Regions from separate parts of the Homo sapiens genome. Here all the other regions are linked to region 3. The links come from fine-mapping of genetic effects on gene expression. A gene starts in region 3. Each other region holds a variant in brackets. All regions are shown on one strand. Distances are from middle to middle. Region 1 holds the start of ESYT1 (extended synaptotagmin 1). Region 2 holds the start of MYL6 (myosin light chain 6). Region 3 holds the start of SMARCC2 (SWI/SNF related BAF chromatin remodeling complex subunit C2).

Evidence for each region. PIP is the estimated chance that this variant, and not a neighbour inherited with it, causes the effect.
Region 1: its variant is fine-mapped to the expression of SMARCC2 in whole blood (TOPMed, PIP above 0.99).
Region 2: its variant is fine-mapped to the expression of SMARCC2 in monocytes (Kim-Hellmuth 2017, PIP 0.95).

Annotation. Positions count from the first base shown.
Region 1 is chr12:56,121,520-56,129,693 of GRCh38, forward strand. It overlaps ZC3H10 (zinc finger CCCH-type containing 10), which reads left to right. Exons shown (of 3, transcript NM_032786.3): 3 at 1-5,995. The coding sequence ends at 348. ESYT1 (extended synaptotagmin 1) reads left to right here and starts at 6,748. Exons shown (of 31, transcript NM_015292.3): 1 at 6,748-7,190. The coding sequence starts at 6,801. RefSeq lists enhancers at 1-633, 4,721-4,980, 6,420-7,081, 6,887-7,136, 7,457-7,556 and 1 more and a silencer at 6,617-6,686. The variant C/G (reference allele first, on the strand shown) is at 4,837.
Region 2 is chr12:56,158,339-56,166,512 of GRCh38, forward strand. It overlaps MYL6 (myosin light chain 6), which reads left to right and starts at 21. Exons shown (of 7, transcript NM_021019.5): 1 at 21-66; 2 at 346-373; 3 at 1,249-1,392; 4 at 1,637-1,810; 5 at 1,905-1,982; 6 at 2,288-2,332; 7 at 3,049-3,241. The coding sequence starts at 64. The coding sequence ends at 2,316. It overlaps SMARCC2 (SWI/SNF related BAF chromatin remodeling complex subunit C2), which reads right to left. Exons shown (of 29, transcript NM_001330288.2): 27 at 6,980-7,361; 28 at 5,965-6,393; 29 at 4,021-5,427. The coding sequence ends at 5,351. RefSeq lists a silencer at 290-469 and enhancers at 1,140-1,209, 1,250-1,319, 2,290-2,912, 2,913-3,533. The variant CT/C (reference allele first, on the strand shown) is at 4,989.
Region 3 is chr12:56,184,967-56,193,140 of GRCh38, forward strand. SMARCC2 (SWI/SNF related BAF chromatin remodeling complex subunit C2) reads right to left here and starts at 4,517. Exons shown (of 29, transcript NM_001330288.2): 1 at 4,385-4,517; 2 at 2,221-2,340; 3 at 1,189-1,274; 4 at 64-145. The coding sequence starts at 4,495. It overlaps TRS-CGA4-1 (tRNA-Ser (anticodon CGA) 4-1), which reads left to right and starts at 5,398; the gene lies at 5,398-5,479. It overlaps LOC107984468 (a long non-coding RNA gene), which reads left to right and starts at 5,726. Exons shown (of 2, transcript XR_007063330.1): 1 at 5,726-6,260; 2 at 8,127-8,174. RefSeq lists silencers at 4,254-4,473, 4,544-4,823 and an enhancer at 5,064-5,163.

The DNA.
Region 1 (8,174 bases), 63 kb before region 3:
GCTCTACAGCCTCGTCCAGTGTCCCAGCAAGAACTGGTGGCCCCTGCTGGAGCTCCAGCTGCTCCCCCAACTAATGCTGCACCTCCTGCTGCTCCACCACCCCCACCCCCACACTTGACCCCAGAGATCACGCCACTGTCAGCTGCCCTGGCTCAAACAATTGCCCAGGGAATGGCACCTCCACCTGTCTCCATGGCTCCTGTGGCTGTATCTGTGGCTCCTGTGGCCCCTGTGGCTGTATCGATGGCCCAACCCTTGGCAGGAATCACAATGAGCCACACCACCACTCCCATGGTGACTTACCCTATCGCTTCCCAGAGCATGCGCATCACGGCCATGCCACACTGATGGGGCTAATGGACACTCCCCTGGTATAGCCTCGCAGGGCTGGGGTCAGGGGGCCCTTGCCCACTCACCTAGCCTTCCCCATCCCTGTCTGAAGGGCTCCCTTGAGAACTAGGACAAGAGACTACAAGGAGTATGTCCTGAGGAGGGGTTGGGATGGTGTGTTTTCTCTCACCTCCCTTTTATGAGGGTCCTCTTGTCCATCTTCAAGCCTCACAGTGGGGGCTTGCAGAGGAGTGCAGACTGAAGCCAGCAGAGAGGAAGGACTGACTGAGGGGCTGTGTCCTCTTATGGGAATTTGGGAACATCCCTCGTCTTGTCCTCTCTTCTGCACAGCACAGGTTCCAGCACTGGTTTTAGAAGAAAAAAATACCCTGCCCAGAGGGAAAGCCAGGAAAGATTGGGAAGTGGGTGGTCAGGAGAGAAGGCCTGATAGGAGCCTTCAGACAATTTGGGTCCTAGTTGCTTGGGTTGGACAATACAGGAATTGCTTCTGGGCCCTGGGAAAGCTGGGACCATAGTGCTCCAGCCCAAAGACTAGGGGAGCATTCATTACCCTAGTTTGACCTGAAAATCCATAGGGCAGGGCCCACTACTTTCCAAAGAAATAAAAGAACAATTATTTTTAACAAATGGAGGCAGTGAAAACTTGCTTAGCTATTCTGTGTGGAAGATGGGAGCAGTAAATAGATCTCATGCCAAAATGGGATAAAGACCCCAGCCTCACATAGCTTTGGTAAGATGGATAGAAGCCAGTGAAGAAGGGTAGGGACCCAGAACAAGACCAAATGGGGCTTTGGGGAAGGCACTTTATGGGGTAAAAGCTTTGGAGCCACCCAGTCTAGTTTTAAAAATAGTCCCATCTGTTTCTGGTCTCTGTCTGTATGTGCTATTCCCAGGTTGCCTCAGTAACCAGGGCTCCTAGGGTCATTTAGCAGGGCAGGCAGTAAGGAGAGTGTATTTGCTGAAATGCGGATGGGATGTTACATAGTTGACAGATCCTTATTCAAACAGAGCAGGACAGGTGGAGTTGATGGCCATTGAGTTGATGGCAGTTGCCGCTCAGTTGATGGCAGTTAATGTCCCTCCTACCCCACCCCTTCAGTGGCCAGTTCCTGAAGCCTTCAAGGCTTGGGAGGTCTGGGAAAAGAGAGTCCTTCTAGGGACACAAGCCTCAGGGTCCATCCCTTTCCTCTGTCTCCACATAGGACCAGAAGTTTTAAATCTACTTAAGTCAGTAAGGCCAGGGGCCCCAATAGTCAAACCTCAGTTCCTCCTCAGCTCACGGCTGATGTAGGGAAAACAACTCAGGTGTCTAGTCTAATGGGACAGTAGATTTGGGGGTAGAGAGTGATCCTGGATTGTGTTCCCCCTCATCATGTCTCCTGCTACCTCTTGCTTTCTTGTCTGGTTGATCACTCAGGTCACATCTGGGATTGGAGATGGTGGGCTAGGTCAAGGCCAGTCATTAAAAAAAAAAGCCTAAAGACTAAAAGTGGGCTAACATTGTGGATTTTAGAAACAACACATTGATAAGCTTAATGTTTTTTGGGACACAATTTTTTTTTTTTTTTTTGAGATGGAGTCTTGCCCAGTCACCAGACCGGAGTGCAGTGGCGCAATCTCGGTTCACTGTAACCTGCGCCTCCTGGGTTCAAGCGATTCTCTTGCGTCAGCCTCCCGAGTAGCTGAGACTACAGGCGCCCGCCACCACGCCCGGCTAATTTTTTTATTTTTAGTAGAGACGGGGTTTCATCGTGTTGGCCAGAATGGTCTCTATCTCTCGTGATCCGCCCGCCTCAGCCTCCCAAAGTGCTGGGATTACAGGCATGAACCACCGTGCCCGGCAATTCTAGACTATTAAAAGAGATGGTTTAAGAGCATTTAGAGAAGAATGTAACCATAGATACCAACATGAATTCTCAGTCAAATCCTGACTGACTTTATTTCCTCCTTGCCAGGTTATCTCCAAAGAGGTAGATTTGGGAAATTTTAGACATTGTATGTCTTGTATGTATTTACTCCAGCTGAAGACCACCAAGAATACACCTGGTAATTGAGCAAGTTGGGTTTAATGCTCATTGCAGTGAGGGGGAGGGCTCACCATTGGGGATAACGTGGTGTGTCTCAGCATGAGGGTGTTAGGAACGACTTAGAGAACTTAGACTTTGGTTAAGTGATTTTGGGGAAGATTCAAGAAAGTGGGTGTTCTTTTGGATTGGGTGCTGTTAAGGGAATCCAGGATAATTGGGTAGCTTGTCTAGAAGAAGGGCAGACAAGTGAACCTAAGCACAGTCGATGATGAAGTCACTCACTAGCTGGGAAAGGGGATGTTTGCTGTTTTGTGGTTTGCACACTGACCTTGTTTTGTGCTTAAACAAAATTGTGTAGTGATTTTGTTTTTTGTCTCACTTCATCGCAGTCACTGAGTGACCTTGTCTGATGCTGGTGTTTTGTGAGATTGTTTGTGTCCAAGAGAACTCATTGGCTACCTGTGAGCACCAGGTCAGCCCTAACAGCTCTGAAGCCTGGCTGTGTCAGGCCAGTTCCCAGATTACAGGAGCTACTTTCCTCTCTCTCACCTGCTAAGTCATCACAGATAAGAGGAAAATTACGGGTCAGTTAATCGTAGCATTTTTTCCATGCAAATGGCTCTGGTTAAAAAATAATGAGAAAAAAATAGTAGCATTTGGTAGAATCAAACTGAACACTTGTACTTAGTGTTGGTTAGCGCATTTATGTTAGAGAAATCTCTGTTCTCTAGTGATAAGCCCAAGGGCTATGTTTTATTGTAAAAAGAAAAAACCCAACTCGGGTAAACATGTAAAAAACCCATTTATCAACAGTAACACAGGAAGAGCTAAATAATATTCAAAGTGTCTGTAACTTGAATTGACTAAAACACTGGAGCACTCTCACACTAAAAAATTGCTTAGATCTTGAACTAGTTTGAGGAACAATGTTAGAGATTTATATTAGCAATAATTCACATGAGAACAAACTGGGACTTCCAGTTGGCTGCAAAAAAATAGAATCTTAGCCCTCAAGATGTCCATTTATAAATATTTATTAAGAGCCTGCTATGTTCTAGGCATCTTTCTAGGAGCTCCATAAGGGTAGTAGAACCTTGGTAATAGATTACAAATACAGCAGTTCTATGTTCTGCCTAAGTGTAACCACTTAGTAGTGTGTTGTTCTAAATGTAATTTTTAAAGAGGGCCATTGACAAACCAGTGTGTTGCTAGAAAAAAAAGGCTGGCAAGAGAAAGCTTCAAATAGAAGTCTTCAAATATTTGAAGGGCTGCCCAGTGGAGGAAGATCCTGTTTGCTACACAGGAAGTAAAAAGGGATTTCTAGAATAATGGCTAACTTTTTTTTTTTTTTTTTTTTTGAGACGGAGTCTAGCTGTGTGGCCCAGGCTTCAGTGCAGTGGCACGATCTCTGCTCACTGCAAACTCTGCCTCCAGGGTTTACGCCATTCTGCTGCCTCAGCCTCCAGAGTAGCTGGGACTATAGGTGCCCAGCTAATTTTCTTTTTGTATTTTTAGTAGAGACGGGGTTTCACCGTGTTAGCCAGGACGGTCTCCATATCCTGACCTCGTGATCCGCCCACCTCGGCCTCCCAAAGTGCTGGGATTACAGGCGTTGAGCCACCGCACCCAGCCGGCTAGCATTTGTTGACTGCTTAATATAAGCCAAGGCTCTGTGCTAGGCACTTTACATGCAACATCTCATTGACACAATGGGTAATATTATTGTACCCATTTTACAGAGGAGAAAGCAGGCTTAAAAAGTAACCTGCCCAGGGTTCTGCAAGTAAGGAATGGGGCCAGGAATCTATTCAGGCAGTCTCACTCCAGACGACAAAAGAAAGTTCTAATGATATAGCCATCCAACAAAGCGATCACTACTTGGCAGTAATTTTTTTTTTTTTTTTTTGAGACGGAGTATCACTCTGTTGCCCAGGCTGGAGTGTAGTGGCGTGATCTCGGCCCACTGCAGCCTCCGCCTCTCGGGTTCAAGTGATTCTCCTGCCTCAGCCTCCCAAGTAGAGTAACTGGGATTACAGGTACATGCCACCATGCTCGGCTAATTTTTGTATTTTTAGTAGAGACGGGGTTTCGCCATGTTGGCCAGGCTGGTCTTGAACTCCTGACCTCAGGTGATCCAACTGCCTCGGCCTTCCAAAGTGCTGGGATTACAGGCATGAGCCACCGCGACTGGCTTGGCAGTAACTTTTGAGGAATAAAGAATACAGAAGGAGTTTCCTCAAATCTTGTTGCCCTTCCCATCTTTGTGAGCTGAGATCAGAGTACCGTATCTCACCCTCTGCCTCTTGGAGGTGATTATGGTTTACATATAAATGCAGATTGCAAGTCCAGGAAGTTTACTCTCTCTCCTCCTGTAGGCCTCATCCTGTAAGACACTTCCTCTAACAAATGGGCATCCCTTCCTGTTGTCCACTTACTGCTTATCACCACCAGGTGGCAC[C/G]TGGGCAGCAGAATTGTCAGTGGGCGGGGACCCACCCTGTTTACTTGTGTTGGTAACTGCATTGCAGCTGCTGATCCTGTGGCTCCTGGGCCCCAGCTGGGACAAGAACTTCCTGAGGATGAAGTTTTATCCCCTATATAATTTCTGATGATCTGGATGAGGTGAGGAAGGGAGAAGTTTGGAAAAGAACCTCCATAGGTCACCCTCTCCATTCCCCCATTCTCAGGAACCTCCTTGCCTACTCCAGTGCTTGGCAAATTTCAGTTTATAGAGAGGTTTCTCTCTAAGGTTCATCCATGTTCCTTCTGTAGTTCTGCTTTATCAGTTGGTGAGCAGGTCACTCATAATTCCTCCAATTTCCTTGTTTCCCTTTTCTACCTGCTTACCTCTGGGAATATGGAGGATATAGGAGACAGAATATTGTTTCTTAAATAGTTCTGCAAACTGAATGAAGCAGTCAAGATACTGCTAGCCCTAGGGAAGTAGAGAAAAGGAAGTGAAAAAATTTAAGTGATAGAGGCTGAGCAGGGACAGGTTTTAAGCAGCTTTGGTAAACACAGGCTGATGAAATCTATGCCCTGCAGAACCAGATAAAATTTATCAGCTGCAGGCCTCATCCTGTAAGACACTTCCTCTAAGAAATGGCTAGTTTCTTCCCAGTGATCAACCCCAGTTCTTCTGCTGCATCTGACAGATTTACATAATATGCCCCATATATACTGCATTAAAAGGTAATCATCTTATGACCAACACTTCCCTCATCAACTTCCAATTAGTCTAGTTCCTAGATCCTAGGACAACACTCCACCTCTAACGCCAGTTAACTAGTAACAATAGTCATCGGTGTACCCTGCACTTTTTCCTTCCTAAACCTACACCGTACACTGTGGGACTGCACTAGTTCTGCACCTGACTGTATGGCAAACCTTCCTTCTAACTCAGGCAAATGTGAAAAGGAATTGTCTTTCCCTTACTCTTGATCCCTCATTTTAGTGTCCTAGAAGTTCTTCAGGGTCAGAAAATTATTGGAAAATGTAATAATTTGCGCTGCCTCCCTCCCTTTTGGAGCCAACTAGTCTTACATCCATCCTCTAAGATAGAGATGACTTACTAACTCTTGGAAATTTCCAAAAAGAAATAAAGCCTCACTTTCTATTCACTCTGCTTTTTTTCCCCCTTTCCCTGAAGGCTGGATTATCTCAACTCTGTAATTCTCTGACTCTCCAGTTTTCTCCAGGGTCAGTCGTTACACCACACAAAGAAGGTAGGGGATTAGGGACGGGATAGACGGGGTTAGTTTTCAAACACTTTCATTCCAAATACGATCGTATCCTTTCCTTTTGTAAGGGCAGGCAGGAAAAAGTTGAAGGATAAGGAATGTGCTTAGAGTATGAAAACTAGAGAAAGTCGGCAAAAGAACATATATATATATCCCAGACCAAATCCTGCCAAACCGAATGAGTAGAGGGAAATCCTGAAGCTCCACAACCCCTCAACTTCGCAACTTGGGCTTTCTCCAAAACCAAGAAATTGGCGGTGCAGCTCTGCATGACGTCATACCACAGGCACTCCAATCCCACGTGGGGGAGCTCTTGGTCCCGCCTCTCCTGAAATGGTGCGCCACGCCTCCTCCTCTTTATTACCAATCGAATGCCGCCCCTGAGCCCCTTTCTTCCTTTTCCCGCCATCTCAGACCTCCCATCTTGGCCTTCGGGCCCAATCAGGGAGGCCCTACCTATCCGAAACCCGGTCCGTTCCCCGCGGAAGAGGGGTGGAGTTTCAACCTTTTAACTCCACCTTGGTCTGTGCAGCGCGGACCAACCCAAATCGCCAGAAAGGAGGGGCGTGGCTTGAAGTCCCCTCCTCCATCCCGGGGATCACGTTTTGCCTGGGGGAGCTGATCGCAAGACTAGGCAACCTCCAGCCAGTCCCTGGGTCGGGCGGATCCTCCCAGAGGTGGCACAATGGAGCGATCTCCAGGAGAGGGCCCCAGCCCCAGCCCCATGGACCAGCCCTCTGCTCCCTCCGACCCCACTGACCAGCCCCCCGCTGCTCACGCAAAGCCAGACCCAGGTTCTGGGGGCCAACCTGCTGGCCCTGGCGCGGCGGGTGAGGCCCTGGCGGTGCTGACTTCATTCGGGAGGCGGTTGCTGGTGCTGATACCTGTGTATTTGGCCGGGGCAGTGGGACTCAGCGTGGGTTTCGTGCTCTTCGGCCTCGCCCTCTACCTGGGCTGGCGCCGGGTCCGCGACGAGAAAGAACGGAGCCTTCGAGCAGCGAGGCAGCTACTGGACGACGAGGAGCAGCTCACTGCGAAAACTCTCTATATGAGTCATCGAGAGCTACCTGCCTGGGTGAGCGACCACCCTCGGTCCTCTGTGCAGCATAGCCCCCTTCCACCCCTTCCATCTGGGGCTTTTCCTCCTTATGCCTAGAGTCAGCTCCCTGCCTTGGGACAGTGGGCCCCAGACTTTCCCCTCTCTCCCCGCTAGCCGCCTGCCTGCTGGACGCGCCACTCTTGGAACCGACTGCTCACTCTCCCCACCCACCCTTTCGCATGCCCAGACTGGATCCTTCCACAGAATCAGGACTTCTTCCTCTACTTGGGCAACAGCAGTAATAACATCTGGGGACCCCGTCTCAGCCGAAGCTCTCCCTCCTAGCCAAGCCATCTTGAACGTCCCTCTTGCTTTTGGTGCCACTCGCGGCTTTGCTGCTCCTGGAAATCCTGGTCCCGTTACCTCTCAAAGGTTTCCCTAGTCTTTCCCATCCTCCTCGAGACTTTTTACCTACTTAAAGCCATACGGTTCTCTCTTTTCTCGCTTTTATCCCCGGGTACCCGCTAGGACCCAGCCCCGGCCCCTGGACGACCCTCGGGCAGCCACCTTCAAGCCTCCAGCCGCCAGACTGCAGCGCGGCAGAGGCGGCTGCTGGACGGAGGGAGGGCTACGGGAGGAGGTGGTGCGGCTGCTGCAGTGCCCGCGGCGCACACTCCCCCGCACTCCTCGGCCGGCCACACCCTTTTCCGGACTGTGGGCTGCGCTTGTTCCGTTGGGGCAGAGACCCTTATTTCTGCGGCGGCCGCGTCTCCTGTGCTGAGGCGGATGCCTTCTCTCTAGTCTTGCAGAGGCGAAGCCGGTTACCCGGCCCCTCCCAGCAGAGGTGCCAGTCTAGGGGGAGAATGGCAGCAGAGAGGAATCAAAATTGACACTAGACAGACACAGCCAAGCTTCCCAGGCCCTGGACTGGAAAGGGGAGGAGAAAGAGGGCCAAATGGCTCTAGGGGACCTGTAGCCTAGGCAGCAAGTGTTTGTCTCCTCCTCATCATCATGGAAACC
Region 2 (8,174 bases), 27 kb before region 3:
GGGTTGGGCCGAGAGTCGGAGCCATTACTGCAGGAAAAGGTCCCGGAGAGCTGAGCAGTCAAGATGGTGGGGCCCAGGTCTTGGGAGACGGGCAGGATTGGGGACGAGAGGCAGGAAGAGACGGGTGGGGGGCGAGGAGAAGGCAGGGGTAGGAGGCAAAGGGAATCTGAGGACCCGAAAGGTTGGAGGTGGGGTTGGAAAGACTGGGGCCCTGCGGGGAAGCGAGTCTGCAGCCTGAAACAGGAGTTTGTGGGTCAGAGTTTGTGGGTCAGAGTTTGTGGGGCTGGGATAGAAACTCGGGGGATTGGCGTTCAGATGCTGACCACTTCCCTCTTCTCTGAGCAGTGTGACTTCACCGAAGACCAGACCGCAGGTAGGTTATCTCTGATCCCTACCGAGGTCACCCTTAGGGAGAGGGACACCCTCCCCCCAGCACCTATCCTCTAATCTTAATCTGTCATCTCTTTAGCACCCCCATGAGATTACCCCCTGGATTATTTTCTCTTCTTCTGGATCCTCCATTTTCTTTTCTCACTTTCTTCCTCCCTCCCCTTCCACTCTAGATCTGATCCCAAGCACTGGGTGAGTTTTAGGTGGTGTGGGTATGTGAAAAAACTTGGTCACTTAATGCCTGCTGTGTGTGGGGTCTCGGGAGGGTGTATAAAGCTGCCTGCTTTCCTTTGTCCTTTAATCAGCTACTTCTGCCTCTTTTCTCCTCTTGTGATAACTGTCCCCGCCCTCCCAGCTTGCAGTTGTGAAGATTGTAGAGCAGTGACCTGATATTCTGTGCAGATGGGGACAAGACAGGGGAGTTTGCTAAGGATATGACTGTAGCTATACCCTCTGGAAGTTCTCTTTATACTGGAGGGGTGCGAAGTGGCAGGTTGGGATGACCCTAGTCCCAGGCTGCTGCTCCCACTTCCTTATAAGGACAGGACTGAGACTGGGCGGTGGCGAATTCCTGCCCTGAGAAGTGTAGTAGCAGCAGTGGAGATTGGCAGGCCTGCCGCAGGCAGAGGGGTTGTGTAAATGGATGTTACCAGGCTGCCAGAAGGGGAGGAAGCCTCTATATAGAACACTTGAGTTGGGAGGAAGAGAAATAGAGCCCTCTTAAGTAGACTTTGGTGTACAGTTTGGTGCAGATATCTCGTTTCCTCAGCATGATCAAAGTTGAATGGGCAGCAGAGCTCTGAGGTAGGGTTTGGATTAACCCTCAAATCCTGTGTTGACATTCATCTGAATCCTCAGAGTTCAAGGAGGCCTTCCAGCTGTTTGACCGAACAGGTGATGGCAAGATCCTGTACAGCCAGTGTGGGGATGTGATGAGGGCCCTGGGCCAGAACCCTACCAACGCCGAGGTGCTCAAGGTCCTGGGGAACCCCAAGAGTGATGGTGAGGGGCCTAAAGAACAACTCCTCAGTGTGGTCATGGGCCCACAGTTCTTCAGCTAAGAGCTTCCCTTTATCTTCATAGGCCCCAAACTCAAGCAAGTCTGGATTAGCAAATCCCATGGATTTCCTTGCTTTTAGTGGGGAGTCATCTGTCATCTCTCTGTTCAGTTGAGGTCTCTATAATCCCCTGTCCTGAGAACTTGTGTTACTTCTCTGGCCTGACACTTCCACCTCCTTTATGGCAGAGATGAATGTGAAGGTGCTGGACTTTGAGCACTTTCTGCCCATGCTGCAGACAGTGGCCAAGAACAAGGACCAGGGCACCTATGAGGATTATGTCGAAGGACTTCGGGTGTTTGACAAGGAAGGAAATGGCACCGTCATGGGTGCTGAAATCCGGCATGTTCTTGTCACACTGGGTAAGGTTCTGTGTCCTTGTCCTTGAGCTGAGATGGCACCCTGAGGTACCTCACTTGTCACCCAATTCCAAAAATGCTTTCTTTCCCCCTGCAGGTGAGAAGATGACAGAGGAAGAAGTAGAGATGCTGGTGGCAGGGCATGAGGACAGCAATGGTTGTATCAACTATGAAGGTAAGAGGTGAACTGCGCTTTCTCAGAGAAAGCAGCCATATGGGGCAGGTCAAGTATAGTGTCTGGGGCTTTCCCTATCCCTGGACTTGGGCTCCAAAAAGAGCCAGGAGGCAAGGTGCAGGGCCCTGCCCAGCCCAGCCCAGGAGTGGGAGGTCAGGGCGGTATAACAGGAAAGGAAGGGGGTAGTATTGTAGAGGGTGGGAAGGAATGAGAAGTGAAATAATGGAATGTCTGTCCCCACTGCCTGACCCCTCACCCCATGTCTTTGTCTTGTCTTCACCATGAATGTCTCTTCCTTCCTGCAGCGTTTGTGAGGCATATCCTGTCGGGGTGACGGGCCCATGGGGCGGGTACGGCTCCTCCCAGCCTCTCCTCTAGTTGATCTCCCCAGTGTTTCTTTTTTCCCCAACCTGTGCTCTTTATCCCCTGCCCTTACCCTACTACCATCTGACTTCCTCCTGGCATGTTTCTGCATGGAGCTGACTAGGGAGGGGAGGGATTCCTCAAAGAGGAAGACAACCTGGGGGTACAGTACCTCCTTACCTCTAGAATGGGCCCTGAGGTTTTACTTATGCGGCCCTGGGTGCTGGTGTCTGGGAACTCTCACCAGCCTGTATACCAGTCTTGCTTTAGGGTGACCTTCTGGCCCTGGAGCATGGGTAGCTGGCATAGAGGGGTATGGGTTGCCTGCCCCATTCTGCTGCTATAGCTGAACAGTCCTTTCCCCTTCCCTCGCTGGGCAGCTTGGAGGTACCCTAACCCAAAACTCTGTCCTCTCCTCCCGCCAGTGGCTGACAGTAGCTGTAGGTGTAGTGGAGAACTTTTCTGCCTCTGCTGTGTTCTTGCTGCTTAGGTTTGGGTGGGGGACTAACAGCTGCTGGGAGGGGAGCTAGGGGCATGGAGAACTGGTCAGACTCAAGGTGGCTCCTCTGCAAACTGACCCCAGGGTTGGTTGCTGTGGGCATGTTCCCGCTTATGCTACCTTTGCAGTCTGGTAGTCCCCTGGCCCTTGGCGTACCCCTCCACAGCCCTGTTCCCTGGCTCATCCCACCTTTCCTTTCCACAGAGCTCGTCCGCATGGTGCTGAATGGCTGAGGACCTTCCCAGTCTCCCCAGAGTCCGTGCCTTTCCCTGTGTGAATTTTGTATCTAGCCTAAAGTTTCCCTAGGCTTTCTTGTCTCAGCAACTTTCCCATCTTGTCTCTCTTGGATGATGTTTGCCGTCAGCATTCACCAAATAAACTTGCTCTCTGGGCCCTCGGTTCGGTTCTTTCTTTCCTGAACAGGGTAAAGGGGAAGAAGGTGAGATGGTGATGATTTCTGCCCTGAGGCAGAGTCCAAGGTCAATCAATGGTGCAGGGGTTGAGGAAAGCTGGGGGAGGCCCTGTACTAGCCATCTGGGCTTCATTTAAAAACTACTGGCCCCATTCATCCATCTTACACAAGCTACCTCTTGGGAGATTAGGAAAGCCATAGATCCCAGTAGGACTAAGGCTGGCCATCCCTGTTCCATTCCATATCAGGCTGTCTTCTCCTACCCTTCCAGCTCCTTAAATCTGGCCCCCGCCCTCCCAAGCTCCCAATAAGGCCTTTTGTGGGGAAGCCTGTGGAGTGTTTATTGGAGCTAAAGCCAGGCCATTATTAGCACTGCCTAAGCCTGTCCGTCACCTCAGCAGGGTGAAGGGCCAATTATAACAAAAGTAGGTAAGGGGCTTGCCTCCTCTCTAATAAGGGAAGGAGTGAAACCACTACTTCTGAAGGGACAGAGATACAAAATTCCATGTTGTGGGAATGTCCTTCCAAGTCTTAAACAGCTTTTAGGGCAGGTGAGAGCCTCTGCTCCTATACCAGCACATAGTCTCGACAGTTGTGCTGCCGTTCGTGTTTTGTGGGGAGGCGCAGTGTCTGTAGGCCGTGTGGCTTGCAGAGTGTCTTTCGGCCCAGGTAAACGCCGCTGTGAAGGACTCCAGGAAAGCTGCTCCCATCACAATCCCCCTGCCTGACAGCCACAGGTAAGAACACAGAATGCACCCACAAGATGGAACTGAAAGCAAATTAATTTATAAAAAAAAAAAAAAGAAAGAAAGAAAAAAAGAGAAAATTTACAGAAAACTTTGAACAGAAGAAAGGTGCTAAGACGCAGAGGGAGAGAAACATGGGGACATGAGGAACAAAGGGCCTGGTGGGAGGAACCAAGAAGAACCAGTGCAGAGCCTGGAGTCACACCTGCCTTCCCGTCACAGGGGAGAAGCTGGGACACGTGGAGCAGGAATGCGGGAAGCAGAGTTGAGCTGCGAGCCAAGGGTTGGTCCAACCCAAGGTTGGGCACCCTCTTCCACTGCTCCCAAATCCCTGCATCCTCATCTGGGGAGCCCCCAGCTATCAGCTGAAGTTCTCATAGTCTTGGTGGGAGAGGGAGGAAGCTAAGGGGTGACCCACCAAGTCATAATATGGAGGTGCTTAAGTGCTTTAAAAAACAATTTCAGGTTTTAAAACTTCACATCCTCTTATAGCTCCCTTCTCTGTGCCTTCCAGGAGTCCATGGATACAGCCCAGGGAAGGAAGGAGAACAGCCCCCAGTGCCCTTTCTTCTCCTATTACCTACCACAGAAATCCCCGAAATTAGGTTTTCCCCACCAAATACACATACGCTGACATCAACTAAGCAAGTGACTTTTAAAAACAAAACTGACATTCAGAGGGAAAGGAATCATTGGCTGAGCTGGGGTGGCCTAAAACAGCAACAATGAGGAAGCCGCAGGAGGGATTATTAGTACGAATGAACTCGAATAAGCTCAGCGTAGGGTGGGGGAGGGGAGTTGGGGCCTTGACTTAGTCACTAAAAAGGGGCTTGGGGAGAGATGGAATCTGCGCCCTGTTCTATCCCCAGAGCTCTCCCTGGAATCTTAATTCCCCTTTCCTAAAACTCACTCCCCCTCAAAAAATGTAAAAATTGGTTATTTTTTAGTGGGTAGAAGGGAGCTCCAATGTGGCTTTTTAAAATCTA[CT/C]TTTTTTTTTTTTTTTTAATCCATAGAAAATGCAGTAGTTTGGAGGGAGGTGTACCCTTAGAAGTGGTTAATAGAACCTTGTATAAACACCTTTCACCAGCCCTTCCTTTAGGGCAGCATTCCCATCCTATCCTCTCTCCCAGACATTATAAACATCTTTTAAACAGAAGTCCTTGAATAATCTGATATAAAAATGCATGCCTCTGTTAGGCATGGTGAGGGCTTTGGAGGGGCGGAAGGAGCTTTCCTTACGTAGTGATGAACTCTCCAGGCTGGGGAGGGTCCCAGTGGTGGGGGAAGGGCTGTTCCTGGAACCGTGATGTCCACAGGGGGTGAGGGGGAGAGATGTCTGGCTGGCTCCTCACTGTGGAGGTGGCACAGGGGTGACCGTGCCTGGGCTCGGGGCTGTGGGGTCTGGAGGCAGGGGGGTGCCTGGGTCTGTGGAGAAAAGGAAGATAAATCAGTTAGAGTACGCCGGAGAGATGGCTCCAGACCCAGACCACCACAGACAGACAGAACCGGGCATGGCATGCAGTGGCTGGGTGGATGAATGAGGTACCCATAATGTTCAACTTCTGTTCCCAACACTCTTTTCTACCTCATACTCAGAAAAACATATAGAAAGACTCTCTATATGGGGCATTTGAACGTGATAGGAATAAGCAAAGGGATGCCACTCAATCATCATGCAAACAGCTGCTTTTCAAGTTTACAACTGAGATGCTCTCTGCCACAGGATTGCTCCATGACCCACCAGTGAAAGGCCCCAACATCATCCCAAAGGTGGCAGCTGCCAGGCTGGGGAATGGTGGAGGACGGCCAGAGAGGCCCTTCCTCCTGTATTCTAATTTTACCAGAGTGTTCAAAAAGGATTGTGGAAACTCTAATACCTGACCTCTTCCCCACCTGCCCGCTCACCCTCCCTCCAGGTGGACCCCTCTCCCTCACCCTTCTCCCCTCTTGGCCCCTTCTCACCTGGCAGTGGGCTGGCACTGGGCAGGAGGTTGCCCTGAACAGCTGCCACAATGGCAGGGCTTTGGGCTGCGGCGGATCCGAGCCCCGGCCCGAGAGGCAAGGAAGATGGCATGGTGGTGGTCGCCGGCAGGTTAGGATGTAGAGGGTTCGCCATGGACACAGGCAGGTTAGGTGGGGGGAGAGTGCCCGGGGCGAACGGGAGATGGTGGTGATGCCCATGCAGGTTAGGAGGAGCGGGGAGGTTAATACTGATGGAGTCAGCTAGACTACCAAATGGGATGATGGATGGAGCAGGAGGAGGAGGAGGAGGCGGCATGCCAAAAGGCAAACCCAAAGGAGCATTACCCGCCACGCCTGGGTGCCCGCTGCCTGGCACTGCCCCTGGCATCATTGAGGGAGGAGTTTGTTGGTTGGGGAACGGTGAGGGGCCTGAGAATAAAGATGAGAGATGGAGAAAATTAGGTATAAAATTTTGCTTAACAACTCACCTTTTCTATTTTTTTTTTAGACGGAGTCTCACTCTGTCACCAGGCTGGAGTGCAGTGGCACGATCTTGGCTCACTGCAACCTCCGCCTCCCGGGTTTAAGCAATCTCCTGCCTCAGCCTCCCGAGTAGCTGGTACTACATGTACGCACCACCACGCCCAGCTAATTTTTGTATTTTTACTAGAGACGGGGTTTCAACATGTTGGCCAGGATGGTCTCAATCTCCTGACCTCGTGATCCACCCATTTCGGCCTCCCAAAGAATAACTCACTTTTACAAACAAGGATAATCTAGCCATTCCTTGGCACTATCTTCCCCTTTTCTGACACTAGAGTAAGTGAATAAAATTCCAAAGCTCTCGAGTTTGGGGAAGGACTCCTGCTGATTTAGGGGCCTAAGAGAGATGGGCCCATCTGTAGAAATTGAGGCTAACCTCATCTCCACACTCATCTTGTATCCCCTTTGAGGAGAACTGGGACATTCACCTGGATTCCTCTAGCCAACAAAAGTTCTGGAACATAACACTTACCATGGGGTCCAGGGGGGGGAACCCCTGGTGGGACTGCCCCAGGCTGGGGGGCTCCAGCTGGTTGCTGCTGCTGTGGCCCTGCAGTTGACCCTGCCTGCCCAATCTGTTCAGAAGGGCCCAAACTTCCTGGAGGGGCCCCACTGCCAGCAGGAGCAGGGACTACAGAGGCTGGAGCCACAGCCAAGCCATGGACTGCGGGTGGCCCAGCAGCCCCTGTTGGGGGGATAGGCTGGGAGCCTGGGGGCAGGGCTGGTGGTGGCTGCTGCTGCTGTTGGTGCATCTGTTGGAAGTGCTGCTGCCGAGCCCTCATCTCCGCATACTTCAGCTGCTCCATGTGGAAGGCTTGTCTGTCGGCCAGGAGCTGCTGCCTCTGATACTCCAGCTGCCAGTGCCAATTGAGTATTGTTATCCAATTTTCAGCAGATCCCAAAGGCAAATGCCTCAACCCCTGCTTTGTCTTCTTCTGAAAGAGCCTGCCTCTCAATCAGAAGGTTCCCAAAATCTACATCTTGTGCTTGTGCTCCCTCTGTCCTCCCCACCCGACTTCGTGCAAATTCCCATGACCTTTATGTCTCCTGAGTGCCCACATGGTTTCTTATTGCAATGACTTTAACCTGGCCCAAGCTCACTTCAGCTACAAAGCTTTGAACTTGCCATTACCTTGATTTGGAAAATGCTTCCAGTTCCTTTTGTCAATTCAAGTTCTTTTCTTACTTCAAAATTCACTAAAAAGTCACTGTTCTTAGGAAGCTATCCCAGATCAATTCATTTGCCTCTGAGCTTTAGCTTTATTCTATGATCTCAGGACTTAGAAACTTGATGTGCAATCTCTTTATTTTTTTGAGACTGAGTCTCACTCTGTCACCCAGGCTGGAGTACAGTAGCGTGATCTCAGCTCACTGCAACCTCCGCCTCCCCGGTTCAAGCAATTCTCCTGCCTCAGCCTCCCGAGTAGCTGGGATTACAGGTGTGTGCCAGCATGCCGGGCTAATTTTTTGTATTTTTTTATTCTTTAGTAGAGACGGGGTTTCACCATGTTAGCCAGGATGGTCTCGATCTCCTTGATCTCGTGATCCACCTGCCTCAGCCTCCCAAAGTGCTGGAATTACAGGTGTGAGCCACCGCGCCCGGCTGATGTGCAATCTCTTAATGTGAATTTGTCAGATACTTTAAACCTTCTTAACTGTTTCTGATG
Region 3 (8,174 bases):
AGGAAAGGGGTGTTTTAGATTCTCACTGAGGGAAGGGAGATAAATAGGGTATATGCCTATTACCTGCACCAAGGACTTCTCAATGGTCATAAACATTTCCACATTGCGGTCCATGCGTGATGGATTCTGGAAATCGTAACGCCGCCTTGTGAAGAGGCAATAATCTAGTGAGTGGTATAGCTCAGGTCTGCAGATGAGGTGAGGGCACGTGACTTTTTTGTTTGTTTTTTGAGATGGAGTCTTGCTCTGTCACCTAGGCTGGAGTGCAGTGGCGCGATCCCGGCTCACTGCAACCTCTGCCTCCCAGGTTCAAGCAATTCTCCTGTCTCAGCCTCCCCAGTAGCTGGGACTATAGGCACACACCACCTCACGTGGCTAATTTTTGTATTTTTAGTAAGTAGAGACGAGGTTTCACCATATTGGTCAAACTGGTCTTGAACTCCTGACCTCAGGTGATCCACCTGCCTCGGCCTCCCAAAGTGCTGGGATTACAGGCATGAGCCACCACACCCGGCCTTTTTTTTTTTCTTGAGAGGGAGTCCCGCTCTGTTGCCCAGGCTGGAGTGCACTGGCGCGATCTTGGCCAGCTGCAACCTCTGCCTCCTATGTGCAAGCCATTCTCCTGCCTCAGCCTCCCAAGTAGCTGAGACTACAGGTGCCCGCCACCATGCCCGGCTAATTTTTGTATTTTAGTAGAGATGGGGTTTTGCCAAGTTGGCCAGGCTGGTCTCAAACTCCTGACCTCAAATGATCCACCCACCTCGGCCTCCCAAAGTGCTGGGATTACAGGTGTGAGCCACTGCGCCCAGCCATGACTTCTTAATATGGGAAATTAGGAGGCAAGCTTGCTCACAGCTATTGCCAAACATCACCTGGGATCTGAGGTTCACTGATCTCAACTCCATGAATCACTCTCTGTGCTTACTTCAAAGGGACAAAAAAAGGTTTGAGATGCCAACCTAAGAATCCCTTTTCCTCTACAAAACACACAGTGATACTCACACACTCACTCTTGGAGACTGTTTTGGCTCTGACTCCCAACCATCTTCCTGACGTAGTAAGTCAGGTCTACTGACCCAGCAAAATAAAGAGACTCACAAGAATTTCTACCCCAGAAAGATCCCAGGGAATCAAAAAGGGGGATTTCCTCTAAACTAAATATAAGAAGAATAGAGAGAATCATCTCACCATCCCTGGTCACTCTTGAATTTGTAGGCAGCTGCAAGAATGTGGCACAAGGAGCCTCCCGCTTTGAAATCTAGGAAACATTTGATCTACAAAATCAAGATACGGAAAAAGCATGTCAAGGTTCCACTGTAAATTCTCTCATCACTTAATAATCTAATAATCCTTTCACAAAATCCCATGCTGAATTGATCTCCCTTTTTTTTTTTTTTTTTTGAGATGGAGTTTCACTCTTGTTGCCCAGGCTGGAGTGCAATGGCGCGATCTTGGCTCACTGCAACCTCTGCCTCCCAGGTTCAAGCAATTCTCCTGTCTCAGCCTCCTGAGTAGCTGGCATTACAGGCATGAGCCACCACACCCGGCTAATTTTGTATTTTTAGTAGAGACGGGGTTTCTCCATGTTGGTCAGGCTGGTCTCCAACTCCAGACCTCAGGTGATCTGCCCGCCTCGGCCTCCCAAAGTGCTGAGATTACAGGCGTGAGCCACCACGCCCGGCCTCAAAGCTGAAATTCTTTAACCCTTGTGCCATTGCATCATGTGGCCTGGAAGAGGGGAGTGAAAGAAACCAACACACAGAAAGCACCACCTTGTGCTAACACTTTACTGGATTACCTCAGGTACCATTAAGGAAACTCTACAAGGTAGGTTTACTAATCCCATCTAGAGATGAAGGAACCAAGACTCATGAATGTTGCCCAAGATCACAGAGCCATCCAATGGCAAAGCCAGGATTTGAACACAAGCCTGCACAAATCCAAATCTCAAGTCCCCTTTTAACCATGCCATGAGAGACCTGTGGACTGATCCCAGGTACTCTGAAATAATTTGTTGCACAAAATATTACTAAGACAAAAAGAATGGTAAACTGGAGACTAGGCCAAGCCAATAATGCCCTGATCAGGGATAGGGATGGTGGAAAATAACCCAAATTTCAAAAATTACAAAATTCACAAATCTTTTTTTAAAATACAACTCTTCAGTTTGAAGGATTCACCACCACCACCCCCCACCCTCCCTGCTACTTCTGCACTCACCGGCAGTTTAGTGAGCGGTGCATTGCTGACATGTTTGCCAAAAACTTCTTCCTGAAATTGTAGCAACTGTACAACCAGGCTAGACAGGGACTTGTTGGTGGGTGGTTCAGCTTGTATATACTAAGGAAAAAGAGGGAAAGGAAAGAAAAATAGATCTCAGATAAATTGTCCACTATCTCCCATATTTCTCCCCCAGGGGCTCTGGAAGCATGTGGAGCAAAGAAAATAGTGCCCTTCTCCCCATTTAGTCTCTATAAAGAAAATGGCAAAAGGGAGGCCCTGGACACCCCAACCAGGAAGCTGAAATTCTGCTGCCACCAGCCCAGGTGGCCAGTGTTGGGGGGAACAGGGAAGCTTACTACTCTTCCTCAGTTATACTCTGAAATTGGAGTTGCAGGACCCTATTATCTTGGCACCTCATCTTTAACCAACAGCACTGAGGGTTGTAAAATTCTGGAGGTTTATAAAGTTCAGGTCATGGAAGCAATACCTCTGGGGCTCTAAGAGAGACATTTCTTAGGGGAACTCTGTAAAGCCATGATTCCCCCTATAATGTAGCCTAACAAGAAAAGGTACAAGGAAGTGAAGGAGGGCAAGTTGACTGAGTGAGCTTGTGCATTTTGCTTCTGAAGACTGGGTATAAATGTCTTCATAGGCCCTCCTAGACAGGAAGGGCCATCCACTACCCAGCCTGATGGAGAAGAGCAAGACAACATCTACCCTGTCCGAGGAAACTGTATCTGAGACAAGTAACCCTGGCCCTACTTCTATGTTTCCACACTCTGCTACCTAGTAGCATCCTAGCCTTCCATTCTAATTTGAACCTGAGCCAGGAGACTTTCTTTTTACTTTTTGACCCGTTTTCTCCCCACTCATCACAAAGAAGACAGTGCCTCTCAGTGAGAGGTGAAAAGAGATAGATCTGTGAAGGGAAAGGTAAATGACAAAGAGCTAAGAGCATGGAAGCTGAACCAGGTCACAACTGTCAATTCCCCCAAGGCCGGAGGCTAAGCCCCTAGCCTGATCTCCCTGCAAAAGGTCAAAGGTAGAAGCCTGGGAATAAGAGCCTCTCACAGGCGTAGAGACATGCCATAGAAATAGCAGCTATTTGTCAGGATTCTCACACCCAGAGAGACCCCAAGGGCAGGGCCAGGCTCACAACCAGCATCAGTAGGAAGTTCTCCTAAGCCACTAAGCACACTTCTGACGAGCTGCAAAGCCGGCAGGAAGAACTGGGGAGCTGAAAGAAAGCCATAAAGAGAATCCCTCTCTGAGGGTAGTGAGAAAAAGAGAGGCAGACCATTTCCAGAGAAAACCAGGCCTAGAGACAAAGACGACACCAGGAAGAGGTTTGGTAGAAAAGACAGGTAAGGATTCTTGAACCTTTTGTTCACCACCTTATGATCTCCAGTTATGGGGTTTGGGTGTGAGGGGCTAGAGATAGGAAGCTCACCCTAACCTCTCGACCCCAAACCCAGGGTACTGCAAAGCTAGGTTGCAAGGTGACTTCATTGTAAAATCGAGGAAAGGTTTCGGAAGGGGCCGCTACCCAGGAACTCCTATACCCCGGCTCCCTGAGAGATTCTGTTGCCCCTTAGATGAAGGTGGGGGATGAGCGGCGGAGACAGGTGATCCCTGGGTGGAGACCTTTTTCAGGCTGATGAGCAGCCAACGGCTTGCTCTGTGACTGTTTACCCTCCTGCTTTCCATTCTCTCTCTCTGAACATACACAAAGCACCGGAGAGGCCTCAGCCCCGCTGGTACCTGGCTCCGTGGGGAGCTCTGGCGGGCACGCTCCGGGTTGCGGGGGAGCCCATTGGGCACCCGGTCCACACCCGGCCGGCCGCCTCTCCCAGAAAAGCCAGGAGGGCGATGGCTGAGGGGAAGGTGGGCTAATGGCACCGGGGCCCGCCGGGCAGTAGAGAAAAACAAGGGGCAGAGGGCGCAGCAGTGGGGGCGGGGGCTGGGCTCAGAGGCTGGGGGTGCGGGGAGAGGGAGGCTGGGGGAGGGGCGCGGGAGCGCAGGAGGGCGCGCGGGGGGCTGCTTGGGAGGCCGCGGGGGAGGGGCTGGGGCGCCTGGAGGGTAGGCAGGATCCCGGGGCTGCAGGGCCGCGGTCCCTTTGTCCCGCCCCCGGTCCCCGCGCGGCCCGGCCCGGCCCGCGTACCTTCTTGTAGTTCTTGCCGAGCCACAGCCGCACGTTGTCGAACTGGGTCACGGTGTCCGCGGCCTCGTAGTACTTCACGTTGGGGCCGCCGTCCTTCTTCCGCACCGCCATCTTCTCCGGCTCGGGCCCCGCCGCCGCCCGCCCCACTCAGCTCAGCTCCCGCCTCCTCCGCCTCCTCCTCCGCCCGCCTCCCGCCGCCTCCCGCCGCCGCGGCCGCCGCCTCCCGCCGCCTGGGCCGGCCCCGGTCCGCGCTGCGCCCCCTGCCGGCAGGCCGGGCGCGGCGGCGGAGCTCCAGGCGCGGGCCGACCCTGGCGGCCTCCCCGGCAGCGGAGGCGGGAGCCTCCGGGGAGAAGGACGCTTCCTGGAGGGGGCGCCATTCTCCTGAGATCGCTCTTACCAGACGCGAAGCCCTTTCCCTCTTTTTGCCTCAGCTCGGGAGTGTCACCTCGCTATCCCACTCCAGGCGGCCGCCAGTCGCTGGAGCAGCCCCAACCCGTAGACCCGAGTGGTCCTCACCTTGCGCATTCCTAACCCGACGAAGCCCCTCGTCCCCCAAAACCCCAAACCCCTTTCCCCAAGAAGTTCCTTCCTTCCATCCATTCACAGCAGCTCCCCATTTAAACTTTTCAGAGTCTCCCTCACTCCTCGCGCCTTGTCCACCCAGCACTCCCCTCACTTGTTAACCCAAATGTCCCCTAGTCGCCACCCTGGCGGCCCAGTGCCTTCCCTCAACTGCTTCCTCCGCAGGCCTCGCTGTCGCCTCCTAAGTAGGTGTGAGCTCCTACTCGAGACCCCGACTCTTCGCTAGGCAGGAGACCCTCCCTCCCTGGGTCACCCAGTCCATCCGACTCTTTTTCTTTGGGTGGCGTAGATAGGAGGTAAGGAACCGAGGGGTGGGGAGTCCTCAGGTGTGTGTGTGTCGGGGCCGGTACCCTGCTTCCGGTTCCCGCACGCATTCCCGGATTGCAGTGCGGACCCCTTCTGTAAGCGCGCGATAAAGCGCGGTTTTGGAAGTCACGGTGGCCGAGTGGTTAAGGCGTTGGACTCGAAATCCAATGGGGTTTCCCCGCACAGGTTCGAATCCTGTTCGTGACGGGTTTTTTTTTTTTTTCTTTCTTCTTCTTATTATTAAAAGGGAGTCTCGCTCTGTTGCTCAGGCTGGAGTGCAGTGGCGCGATCTCGGCTCACCGCAACCTCCGCTTCCCGGGTTCAAGCAATTCTCCTGCCTTAGCTTCCCGAGTAGCTGGGACCACAGGCATGCGTCACCATACCTGGCTAATTTTTGTATTTTTAGTAGAGACAGGTTCACCATATTGGCCAGGCTGGTCTCAAACTCCTGACCTCAGGTTATCTGCCCGCCTCGGCCTCCCAAAATGCTGGGATTACAGGCGTCGACTTTTTTAACCCCTTTCACAGCACATAAAGGTAACCCCAGTTCTCACACGTTTCTTTCGTGCACTTTCTCTCTCCAAAAGGGAAGCCGCCAAAAGGTCTTAACCCCTGGATTTGGGAGGATGGGAGTGATCTTGGGAAGTTTAATTATGCACGACTGTATTGGCTGCTAGACTGTGAGGCATTTTCAGAATTTTGTAACTTCAGGCTTCCTGGGAGAGCTTTGGCACATGTCTCATTCTTTTGAGGGCATAGGGAAGGATTTGGTTGAAGGGTTACATTTTGGGAATGTGAGTGGCTGTTTTGCAATATTAGTCAAACTTAGAGTTTCCTCTAAATTTCATGACCAGAAGTCACACCTTGTAGGTCTGATTACACCGAAGACCCAGGAAACAGGATTCTCTCATCTGGATTTCCTTGAGGTGTACAGGGCTAGAAGGGAGTAGTCTATTGAAACATCATTGCAGATCCAGTTAGAGCCAAGGTATGGGAAGATAATTCTCACTTTTTATTGAGTGCTTATTATGTGCCAGATACTGTTTTAAATTATCTATGTGTATTAACCAAGCAAGGAAATTAATCTCATCTTTAACCTTTAACCCTCCTATACTCATCTCACCCCATTTTTCCTATCCCCTAATTTCTGATTGTGGGGAGGATCTAGGCTGCTTGTTGAGGATTTTGTTGTTTGTTTTGGGGGGTTGTTTTTGTGACAGGGTCCCGCTCTGTCGCCCAGGCTGGAGTGCATTGGTGCGATCTCAGTTCACTGCAACCTCAAACTCCCAGGCCCAAGCAATCCTCCCTCCTCAGTAGCTGGGACTACAGGCATGCACCACCACGCCCAGCTAACTTTTTGTATTTTTAGTAGAGACGGCGTTCTGGGATTTCGCCATGTTGCCCAGACTGGTCTCAAACTCCTGGACTCAAGCAATCCGCCTGCCTCAGCCTCCCAAAGTGGTGGGATTACAGGTGTGAGCCACTGTGCCTGGCCAAGGATGTTCTTTTTGTATTTCTTGCACAGCCTTTTGTCCAAAAGGAATCCCAAAGGGCAGGGGGCTCTAGGGTAATACATAGAGCTTTCTACACATTTATACCTTAGAGTTTCCCACCTTCATACCACTGCTCAGGCTGTTATTTCCAGCATGACCCTCACATTGCCTCCCTGTCCCTCACCATTAACACTTTCCAAAATTCTTTAGGCCCCTCCTCTTTGATGCTCTTGATCACTCCAGCTGCCTGTCAGTCTACCACCACCACCATTCACTAAATTGCATGCAAGGACTTCTCCCTTGATATGCTAACATAAAAATAAAATAAAAACAGGGGTGGGTGTGGTGGCTCACGCCTGTAATCCCAGCACTTTGGGAGGCTGAGGCAGGCGGATCACGAGGTCAGGAGTTCAAGACCAGCCTGGCCAATGTAGTGAAATCCCATCTCTACTAAAAATGCAAAAATTAGCTGGGTGTGGTTGGCGGGCGCCTGTAATCCCAGCTACTTGGGAAGCTGAGGTAGGAGAAATCACTTGAACCCAAGAGGCAGAGGTTGCAGTGAGCCAAGATCGTGCCACTGCACTCCAGCTTGGGCGATGCAGCAAGACTCTGTCTCAAATAAAATAAAATTAAAATAAAATAGAAACAGGTTCCATTTATTTTACCTTCTAAATATGTCTCAAATATGCTCACTTTTCTCAGGGGTGAGTGCAGGCTGAGCTAGAGCCTTCATTTGGAAGGTAGTGGTATTTGTGAGCACCATACGAGGTAATATATAGAAAACTGCACTAAAGCATCCACACTGCAGTCCGGGACCTTAAACCCTTCTATGGCTGCTTTCTGTGTTGCAGGATATGACCCCTTTTCTCTCACCACTCTTCCATATTCACTACATTCTGTCCACTGGCATTCTTTTAGTTCTTCCTGGTAGTTATTTAGCCTTGCTCATGGTGTTCTCTGCCTGGAATAATCTTTCTCTTCCACACTTTCTACTCATTCTCCACCTAAATGTTGGTTCTCCTGTGGAGTTTTCTCTGACCACTTGTTGCCTACCACATCCTATGCTCTCAACTTATTATGTGAAGTCTTTCTTCCCCTGTGGCATATAAACACATTAAACACAGATAAGGAGTCAGTTTTTAAAATTTTTTTGCATAAATGGGTGTTTTTTACAGTAGTTATGTGTACATGTTTTAATCTTTAGACTGGTATATAAGCTTCTTGAGAGTTAGGGCTGTGTATTTTATTTATTTGTATCTTCTCTACAAGGCCTTATAGATGTGATCAACTATGTGTTGAATGAATTTATAAAATCTCATAGGCTCATGATTCTCCTTCCTACCAAATCCCAATTTGCACAGGTTCTCATATTTAAATATCTGGAGAGCCAAGACCAGAATTGACCAGCA